2 separate regions of the Homo sapiens genome follow, and region 1 is linked to region 2. Evidence: fine-mapped expression QTL. Tissue or cell type: thyroid. Region 2 holds a variant in brackets; the other region holds the start of a gene. All regions are shown on one strand. Distances are from middle to middle.

Region 1 (4,136 bases), 28 kb before region 2:
ACTCACTGAAACTGTTGTGCCCAGATCCCTTTTCAGAGCATTAGTTCCCTGAGAGGAAAAAAAGAGGTCCTAACCAATTGCTTTCATAAATAGTGACCCCAGTACAGTGTATATGTCTTTTGCAGCAGAAATCAAGAGGTCAGGCAGCTCTGCTCATCCTGACTAGTTTATCATCGTTTGCATACAAGGTATATTTATGTAAAGCTGATTCCACGCCAAGTATTGCAACCATAATCTCAAAAAAATTGTTCAATTTTAGCACACAGTTCCTGCAAGATACCACAGCAGGTGAGAAATCATCTCAAAGAGTTCATCTTTTACAACTGAGAGGAAAACATCGAAGGAGGAAATAAAACTCCTCTCTCCTAAGTTCCTCATCAAATCTGATGGCTATGTTCACAGAGTTAGTTGACAAAAATCCAGAGTCCTCAATTTCTGGACTTGCGAAATCCTTCAAGGTGACTGTCAAGGTCAAGAAGAATTTTCAGGCTTTTCTTTGCCATGGCCCATGAACTCCAGTCCTTCAATAGGAATCTCTTTCTCCTTTATTGCTTTCTGGTAGGAGGAGAAAACACATTATAAAGACCTACATGAAGCTTAAGTTGCAAGCTTTGTAAATAAAATATGACAGTACAAAAGTAAAATCAAGCTGATTATAAAGACTTATAACCATGATTCAAACCACATACTTTTTAAAAAACAAGTACCGGTCAGGTGTGGTGGCTCACGCCTATAATCGCAGCATTTTGGGAGACCAAGGCAGGTGGATCACTTGAGGCCAGAAGTTAGAGACCAACCTGGCCAACATGGCGAGACCCTGTTTATACTAAAAATACAAAAATTAGCTGGGCATGGTGGCGCATGCCTGTAAGCCCAGCTACTCGGGTGGCTGAGGCATGAGAATAGCTTGAACCTGGGAGGCGGAGGTTGCAGTGAGCTGAGATTGTGCCATTGCACTCCAGGCTGGGAGACAGAGTGAGACTCTGCCTCAAAAATAAATAAAAACCAGAAGTACCATAATGAATAAATCAAGTGTAAGACCTGAGGGAGACTGGAAAAGGAGTTGTGAGGGAACCGTTAAAATTAAGTGAAATTTGAAAAATAATCATCACTTTGTGTTAGTGAAAGACTTAGGTTCAAATCTGGGTTCCAGGACTTACTGGCTATGTGACTAACTGTAAATGGGATGAAGACAGCAACTACCTCGGGGAATTGCTGTGAGGATGTGTTGGGTTAACTTATTGGAAGTGCTTTGCCCGGTGCTGTTCTTAACAATTCAAAGCAGTTCCACATCCATTGGGCCAGAATAAACATTTCCTGGCTGCAGTTGCGGGGACTGGTCAAGAGAGAGAAACAGGCTAACGAAGGGTTTATAACAACAAAAAAATGTGACCCTCCAGTCTGAATTCTGAAGTATAATCCCGCCCAGACCCCAGCAGTAATAGTGGAAAAGTGCACCACCTGCGAAAGAACCAAGGAAACCTGATGCTAGTGAACTCGGATTAATCACTTCCTATTTCTGGGTGTTAGTTTTTTATGTATAAAATATGAGTAACTATGCCCACCTTGCGAGTTTAGGGTGAACACCAAATGAACCAAAGGATGTGACTGTGCTTCTTGAAAAGCACTGCCCCAATATTTGTCATTCGGAGAGACACCCAAGTGGCCTCGGTGGTGATGGTAGGGGAGCGAGCTCCTGCCACTGGCCTCACTGCGACTTTTCTCCACCCTTCCAGTCCAGTCCCAATCCCCGTAAAATACGATGAGTGTGGTGGGACACAGCGCCGAGAATGCAGGGCCTGGGAACAGAGGCGGGAGGGCTCACCTGAACACACTGCTGGTAGCGCTTGAAGAGGTCGGTGCACGGGTCCCCGGAGCTGTCCCCCTTGAGAAATTTCTCGGCGAACCAGCGATTGAAGCACTGGTCGTACTCGCGCTTCATGTCCGTGCATGCCTCCCCCACACTGTTCATGGCGACAGTGGTGGCGGCGGCGACGACGGCGCACTCTGATGTCATCACTCTCAGGCGCGTCGCTCGGCGTTACGCGCGGGCGCACTGCGGGGGCCAAGGAAGGAAGAAATGTGGTCGCGGTTGGTGTGGCTGGGCCTTCGGGCCCCTCTGGGCGGGCGCCAGGGCTTCACCTCCAAGGCGGATCCTCAGGTAAAGGCCAGGGCCATCTAGGCGGGTGGCGGAGCAAGCCGGGAGGCACTTCGGAGCGCCGGTGACCCACACTCCCCGCCTCATCCCTCCTCCAGGGCAGTGGCCGGATCACGGCTGCGGTGATCGAGCACCTGGAGCGTCTAGCGCTTGTGGACTTCGGCAGCCGCGAGGCAGTGGCGCGACTGGAGAAAGCTATCGCCTTCGCCGACCGGCTACGCGCCGTGGACACAGACGGGGTGGAGCCCATGGAATCGGTCCTGGAGGACAGGTAAACTCGCGGCTGCAGCCCCGAAGCCTTGACCGTGGCCCGTTCGCAGCCGTTTAATGTGACGATTAGCGAACAGTTTTCCAGGGGGTTAAAGAGTGTTAGCAAGATTCAGGAACTTGCCCACAGTCACCTCGCGAGTCAGTGGCTTCACTCTTCCCCTTGTTCATTACTGATGCTCTCGCTAGTGTAAGTGGAAACAAAACCCGAACTGCTAATCACTGCCTTTGTTTTTTTTTTTGTTTGTTTGTTTTGTTTTTTTTTTTTTGAGACGGAGTCTCGCTGTGTTGCCTAGGCTGGAGTGCAGTGGCTCGATCTCGGCTCACTGCAACCTCCGCCTCCCGTGTTCAAGCAATTCTCTGCCTCAGCCTCCCGAGTAGCTGGGATTACAGGCGACTGCCACCAGGCCCGGCTTATTTTTTTTGTATTTTTAGTAGAGACGTGGTTTCACCATCTTGGCCAGGTTGGTCTTGAACTCCTGACCGTGATCCACCCGCCTCGGCCTCCCAAAGTGCTGGGATTACAGGTGTGAGCCACCGCGCCTGGCCTAATCATCGCCTTTAAGGCCCTACTCCATAGAGTCCCTACCTACTCACTCCAACGTACTCTTCTCAGTACTCTCCTTGGCTACCTTGACTGCTTCTCCAGCAAGACAAGTTCTTTTCCTCTCTAGATCTCTGCACTGGCCCTTCGTTTTTTTCCTTCCTCTCAGTATTTGCATGGCTGCCTCCCTCTTGGCACAGGTCTCAGCTTATCTTCTCAGAAAGGGCTCTCCTAACCACTCCAAATCCCTTCTCCCCTTCTAGTTAGTAACTCATCCTATTGGGTTTTTTCCCTAACATTTTAATGGACTTTTGTTCATTTGTTATATCTCTTTTATTAAAATGTGAGCTCATTATGTAGTTACTGTTTTATTCCTGCCTTGAATTTTTATTTTATTTGTTTTTGAGATGGAGTCTCACTCTATCACCCAGGTTAGAGTGCAGTGGCATGATCTCAGCTCATTGTAATGTCCACCTCCCAGACTCAAGAGAGCCTCCCATCTCAGCCTCCCAAGTACAGGACCACAGGCGCGTGCCACTTGGCCTGGCTAATTTTTTGTATTTTTGATAGAGACGGGATTTTGCCATGTTCCCCAGGCTTGTCTGGACTCCTGAGCAAAGGTGATCCACCCATCTCAGCCTCCTAAAGTACTGGGATTACAGGCATGAGCCACAGCACCTGGCCGTGTTTGATTCTTTCAAATGTCTTCTCTACTTTGCAATTTTCTTTTTCCTTTGGGACGGGGTCTCACTATGTTGCCCAGGCTGGTCGCAAACTTCTAGACTCAAGAGATCCTCCTGCCTCAGCCTCCCAAATAGCTGGGACTATAGGTGTGCACCACCACACCTGGCTAATACTTAAAATTTTTGTAGAAACGGGGTCTTGCCATGTTGCCCCATATGGTCTCAAACTCCTGGTCTCAAGCAATCCTCCTGCCTCAGCCTCCCACTTCCTCAAGAAAGTTTTTTTTTTTTTTTGAGGTGGAGTCCTGCCCCATCACCCAGGCTGGAGTGCAGTGGCATGATCTTGGCTCACTGCAACCTCCACCCTCCAGGTTCAAGTGATTTTTGTGCCTCAGCCTCCGGAGTAGCTGGGATTACAGGCACCCGCCACCACACTCAGCTAGTTTTTGCATTTTTAGTAGAGACAGGGTTTCACCATGTTGAC
Region 2 (4,266 bases):
TAGCATGCACTACTTTTATAATTGGAATAAAACATAATAAATGATTCCTAAAATAAAACCATTATAACTATCTGTTGTATTCTGGATTATGTAAAGCATCTAGCTGTTCTCTAGACAAGCAGGAAAGAGCCCTGGCCAAATATGATCTCGAGTCTAAGTGTGCAGCCTTATAGGAGCTTACATATCCTATAGGCATCCGAAAGTCCAGATGCCTTCTCATTTTGGGTGGTGTGCTTAGGTGTATTAATACCATTCTCTGAGTCCTACCACTCCTATGTGATTGTTGCCTGGAAAGACAAAAAAGGAAAAAAAAGTGCTGTTGGAGACAATTGGGCAGTCTCCTAGGGAGAGAGAAATAGAGTCAGCTAAGTGACTCAATAGGACTGTAGGTGGAAAACTGCTTGCAAATAATAATAATTCAGCTTTAATTGTGCAATGTCCTGCAGCATACAATCTCCAAAGGAGTTCAGTTACCCAGCAGAAAATGTAGGGATGTGGTTAGTACAGGCTTCTTGGATTAGATAGAGCACAGCTAAATCCTTAGGAGGCATTTATGATCATCCATGAAACCCCCTTTATTCCTGTACTGACCTTTGCAGTTAGAACACAAATGAGACCACAATTATGACTTCATGTTCAAAGGGTTCATAGGTTCCATTCTCTGCTAAGGCCAGAGACTCTAGGCAGGGACACCTTTTAAACTTTTTGTTCATCTAGATATTCAACATTATTTATGATTTAGGTCCTGTATGAGGCCCAGGGCATGCAATAATACAGCTCTGTCCTTGAGTTGTGTATATAGGTTGCTATTCGGTCATGTAGAGTACAGTTGTGATAAGGATAAGCTGCTTGAGACTACATCGGAGGGTCACCTACCACAGTCTTAGAGATTCTAAGGAAGGCTTCTGGGAGGAGATGTTTAGAGTCTTGAAGAACCAGTAGGAGTTAACCAGGGGGAAGAGGGAAGGGCATTTCAGACAAAAATGAGGGCATGACTGCTGAGTGCAGTGGCAGTAATCCCAGCACTTTGGGAGGCTGAGGCAGGAGGATGGCTTGAGTCCAGGAGTTTGAGACCAGGCTAGGCAATGTAGTGAGACCCCTATCTCTACAAAAAACTTAAAAATTGCCAGGCCCAGTGGCTCATGCCTGTAATCCCAGCACTTTGGGGAGGTCAAGGTGGGTGGATCACTTGAAGTCAGGAGTTCGAGACCAGCCTGGTCAACATGGCAAAACCTCATCTTTACTAAAAACACAAAAATTAGTCGGAGGTGGTGGCGCACACCTGTAATCCCAGCTACTTTGGAGGCTGAGGCAGGAGAATTGCTTGAACCCGGGAGGCAGAGGTTGCAGTGAGCCGAGATTGCGCCACTGAACTCCAGCCTGGTCAACACCGAGACTCTGTCTCAAAAAAAAAAAAAAAAAAAAATTAAAAAATTATCTAGGCATGGTAACGTGCACCTGTGGTCTCAGCTACTTGATCTCGAACTCTTGAGCTCAAGTGATCCGCCCATCTCGGCCTCCCAAAGTGCTGGGATTACAGGCATTAGCCACGGCACCTGACAGTCCCAGCTACTTAAGAGGCTGAGGTGGGAGGACTGCTTGAGCCTGGGAGGTTGAAGCTGTAGTTAGCCATGATTGCACCACTGCACTCCAGCCTGGGCAACAGAGTGAGACTCTGTCTCAAAACATAAAAAA[G/A]GACACCATGAGAAATCACCCAAATAGGAGAGAGAGTAGCAGACCAGGGAAAATCCCTACTGGTGTGACTGGGGCAAGGAGTTCAAGCAGGGAAGAAGAGAGAAGGAGCTGAGGCACCACCAGCCTGGGCAACATGTTAAAACCCCGTCTCTACAAAAAATACAAAAATTAGCTGGGCATGGTGGCACACACCCATAGTCCCAGCTACTTGGGAGGCTGAGGGGGGAGAATCACTTAAGCCCAGGAGGCAGAGGTTGCAGTGAGCCAATATTGCACCGCTGCACTCCAGCCTGGGCGACAGAGTGAGATCCTGTTACAGAAATGGGCTTGTCCTTCTTTTCACCAAACTGAAAAGAAGCCTTTGATGTTGGCAGACTATTAAGAATTAATGCAGTTCCCACAGCAAGCCATTTATTCTCCACCAGAGTGTAGGGCAGTGCCCAACTGAAAAAAACAACATAAAAAAAAAAAAAAATCCCAAAACCAACAACAGCTCGGGTGATGAGTGCATGAAAATCTCAGAAATCACCACTAAATAACTTAAAGAACTTATCCATATAACCAAACACCACCTGTTCCCCAAAAACCTATTGAAATAAAAATTTAAAACAAACAAAAAACCAACAACGCCAGGCATAAAACATGCTGCAAACCTGCCCATCTGGTTTTCTCCTTTTCTCTGTGACATCAGTCCCCTCTGGCATCCCAGCAAAATATTTTCCTCTCTGTCAGGCTCAGTCATGAGCTCCTCCCAGACCTTGGCCCTAGGTATCAGTGGGCAGAGAGGAAGTGATGGGGGAGTAGACCATCTGAGAAGATGAGGAACTGGTCCCGCCTGGCAGGAGAGCTATGGAATGAGTCACTGGGAAACGTGTTCCTGGTCACAGCACCCTGGGAGCTTTCTCTGTCATTCTCTACCACTGTACTTGTGTGATGGAGTAAAATAAAACATATTCTGGAAAGCTACATAATAAAGAACTGAGCCATGCAGGGGAGGAAGAAGAGAAACAGCAGCAGAACTAGGAGGTTTGGAAGAGAGTTTGGAATTGGGGGTGAGCTTTAGGAAAGCAAGTGTCAAGTGTGGGAGGATGAGAAGAGAAAAATGGGAAAGATAATTCAAGATTTGCAGTATATTGTGAATATAATTCCCCTCTGGTGTTTTTTTCAGAGACTGCAAAAAATCTTTAACATTATTTTTCAATAACTTTTAGATAATGAACTGGTGTTTTCTTTGAATATGCCCAAACAGGTGGGAACACAAGGGCTTGATTTTATATGAAGTTACTTCAAGTGAACATACTGTATTTGTAGCAGCTCGGTTGCTTTATTTTTACTAACTTGTTAAATTCTGTGATGGAGTCTTCAAACAGCTTTTTATATCAGGGCTTCCTTTTCTTGGATTAATGGGCTTCTGGGATCAGTGAACTCCTGCCTCCCTGCCCCCTCAACCTCCACCTCCTGACCCTGATCCTGCAAAGTTGTAACAGTTGTATGCAAAATATTGTATGTGGGCAGAAAAGTGTTTTTATTCTGGGGAGAATCTCCATGTAGCACTGTCCCACAGAACTTTCTAGGATGATGAAAACATTCTATATTTGAGTTCTATGTGGTAGCCATTGGTTACATGTAGCTATTGAGCACTTAAAATGTGGCTACTGCAACTGAGAAACCAACTTCTTAAATTATATTTAACAATAATTAACTTTAATTGTAATAGCCAAATGTGGCTAGTGGCTACCATACAGGACAGCGTAGGAATTTATCATTCTCAAAGGTCTATAAGCTGTACTCCCCCATTCCCCCAAAAAAGGCCAAGAAACACTGAGACCAATCACTTCCCTTTACAGCCCTATGGTACTGGCACATAGTAAGTGCTTAGTAAACACCTGTTGATTTTATTAACTAGTATATAAAGAACAGTTATTCTAGCTCCAGAAAAGTGGAACTGAGGTACAAAATGGCAAATGAGCTCATCAGGTTCACCAAATTTCATTTCCTAAGCTCTAAATTCCTTACCCTCAACCCAGAACTTTTTCCAAAACATTTTCCACTGTAACAAACCTTGAAAACTTTCTTCACAGCAGAGTAAATCAGAAACACAAGCAAAGGGTAGGGGGGTGTGAAAAGATTAATAACAGTACTAAGAATGTTTTTCAATGCAACAAAAAAGGATGCATTTATTTAGTAGAATCCTAATTTTTTTAGACCCAAGTCAGTTTTATACTAAGCAGATTTTTAATGAACTGCGTCAATATAATTCAGTAATGGCACCTCCAAGGCAAATACATTCCTTAAAGGTAAAAAACAAGTATGGGAATTATCTGGAGTTTTTTTTTTTTAAGTTAAAAAAAAATAATAATAACTGAAAGCCAGGAAGCTTCTAGGCTACACATCCCCCATGCTAACACATGCCCAGTGGCTGAACTTCCTTCTGTCTGCCTGAGGCTGGCTCTCCCCCTCAGCCAGCACATGTGCAGGGCTTCTGTGAATGTCACATTGACAGACATTCCTTGCTAGGCAGCTGGGGACCAGTTTCTTTTGTAATTCCATCCTTCTCATGGGCTGCCAGTC

What was found. PIP is the estimated chance that this variant, and not a neighbour inherited with it, causes the effect.
Region 1: GATC starts here. The variant in region 2 is fine-mapped to the expression of GATC in thyroid (GTEx, PIP above 0.99).

Annotation. Positions count from the first base shown.
Region 1 is chr12:120,444,401-120,448,536 of GRCh38, forward strand. It overlaps GATC (glutamyl-tRNA amidotransferase subunit C), which reads left to right and starts at 2,044. Exons shown (of 4, transcript NM_176818.3): 1 at 2,044-2,161; 2 at 2,257-2,429. The coding sequence starts at 2,081. It overlaps TRIAP1 (TP53 regulated inhibitor of apoptosis 1), which reads right to left and starts at 1,984. Exons shown (of 2, transcript NM_016399.3): 1 at 1,826-1,984; 2 at 1-555. The coding sequence starts at 1,972. The coding sequence ends at 472. RefSeq lists enhancers at 1,166-2,013, 1,325-2,524, 1,739-2,288, 1,886-2,180, 2,014-2,859.
Region 2 is chr12:120,472,288-120,476,553 of GRCh38, forward strand. It overlaps a transcript of DYNLL1 not described here. Among named protein-coding and RNA genes, the nearest start is that of SRSF9, 4.7 kb to the left of the region's middle. The variant G/A (reference allele first, on the strand shown) is at 1,696.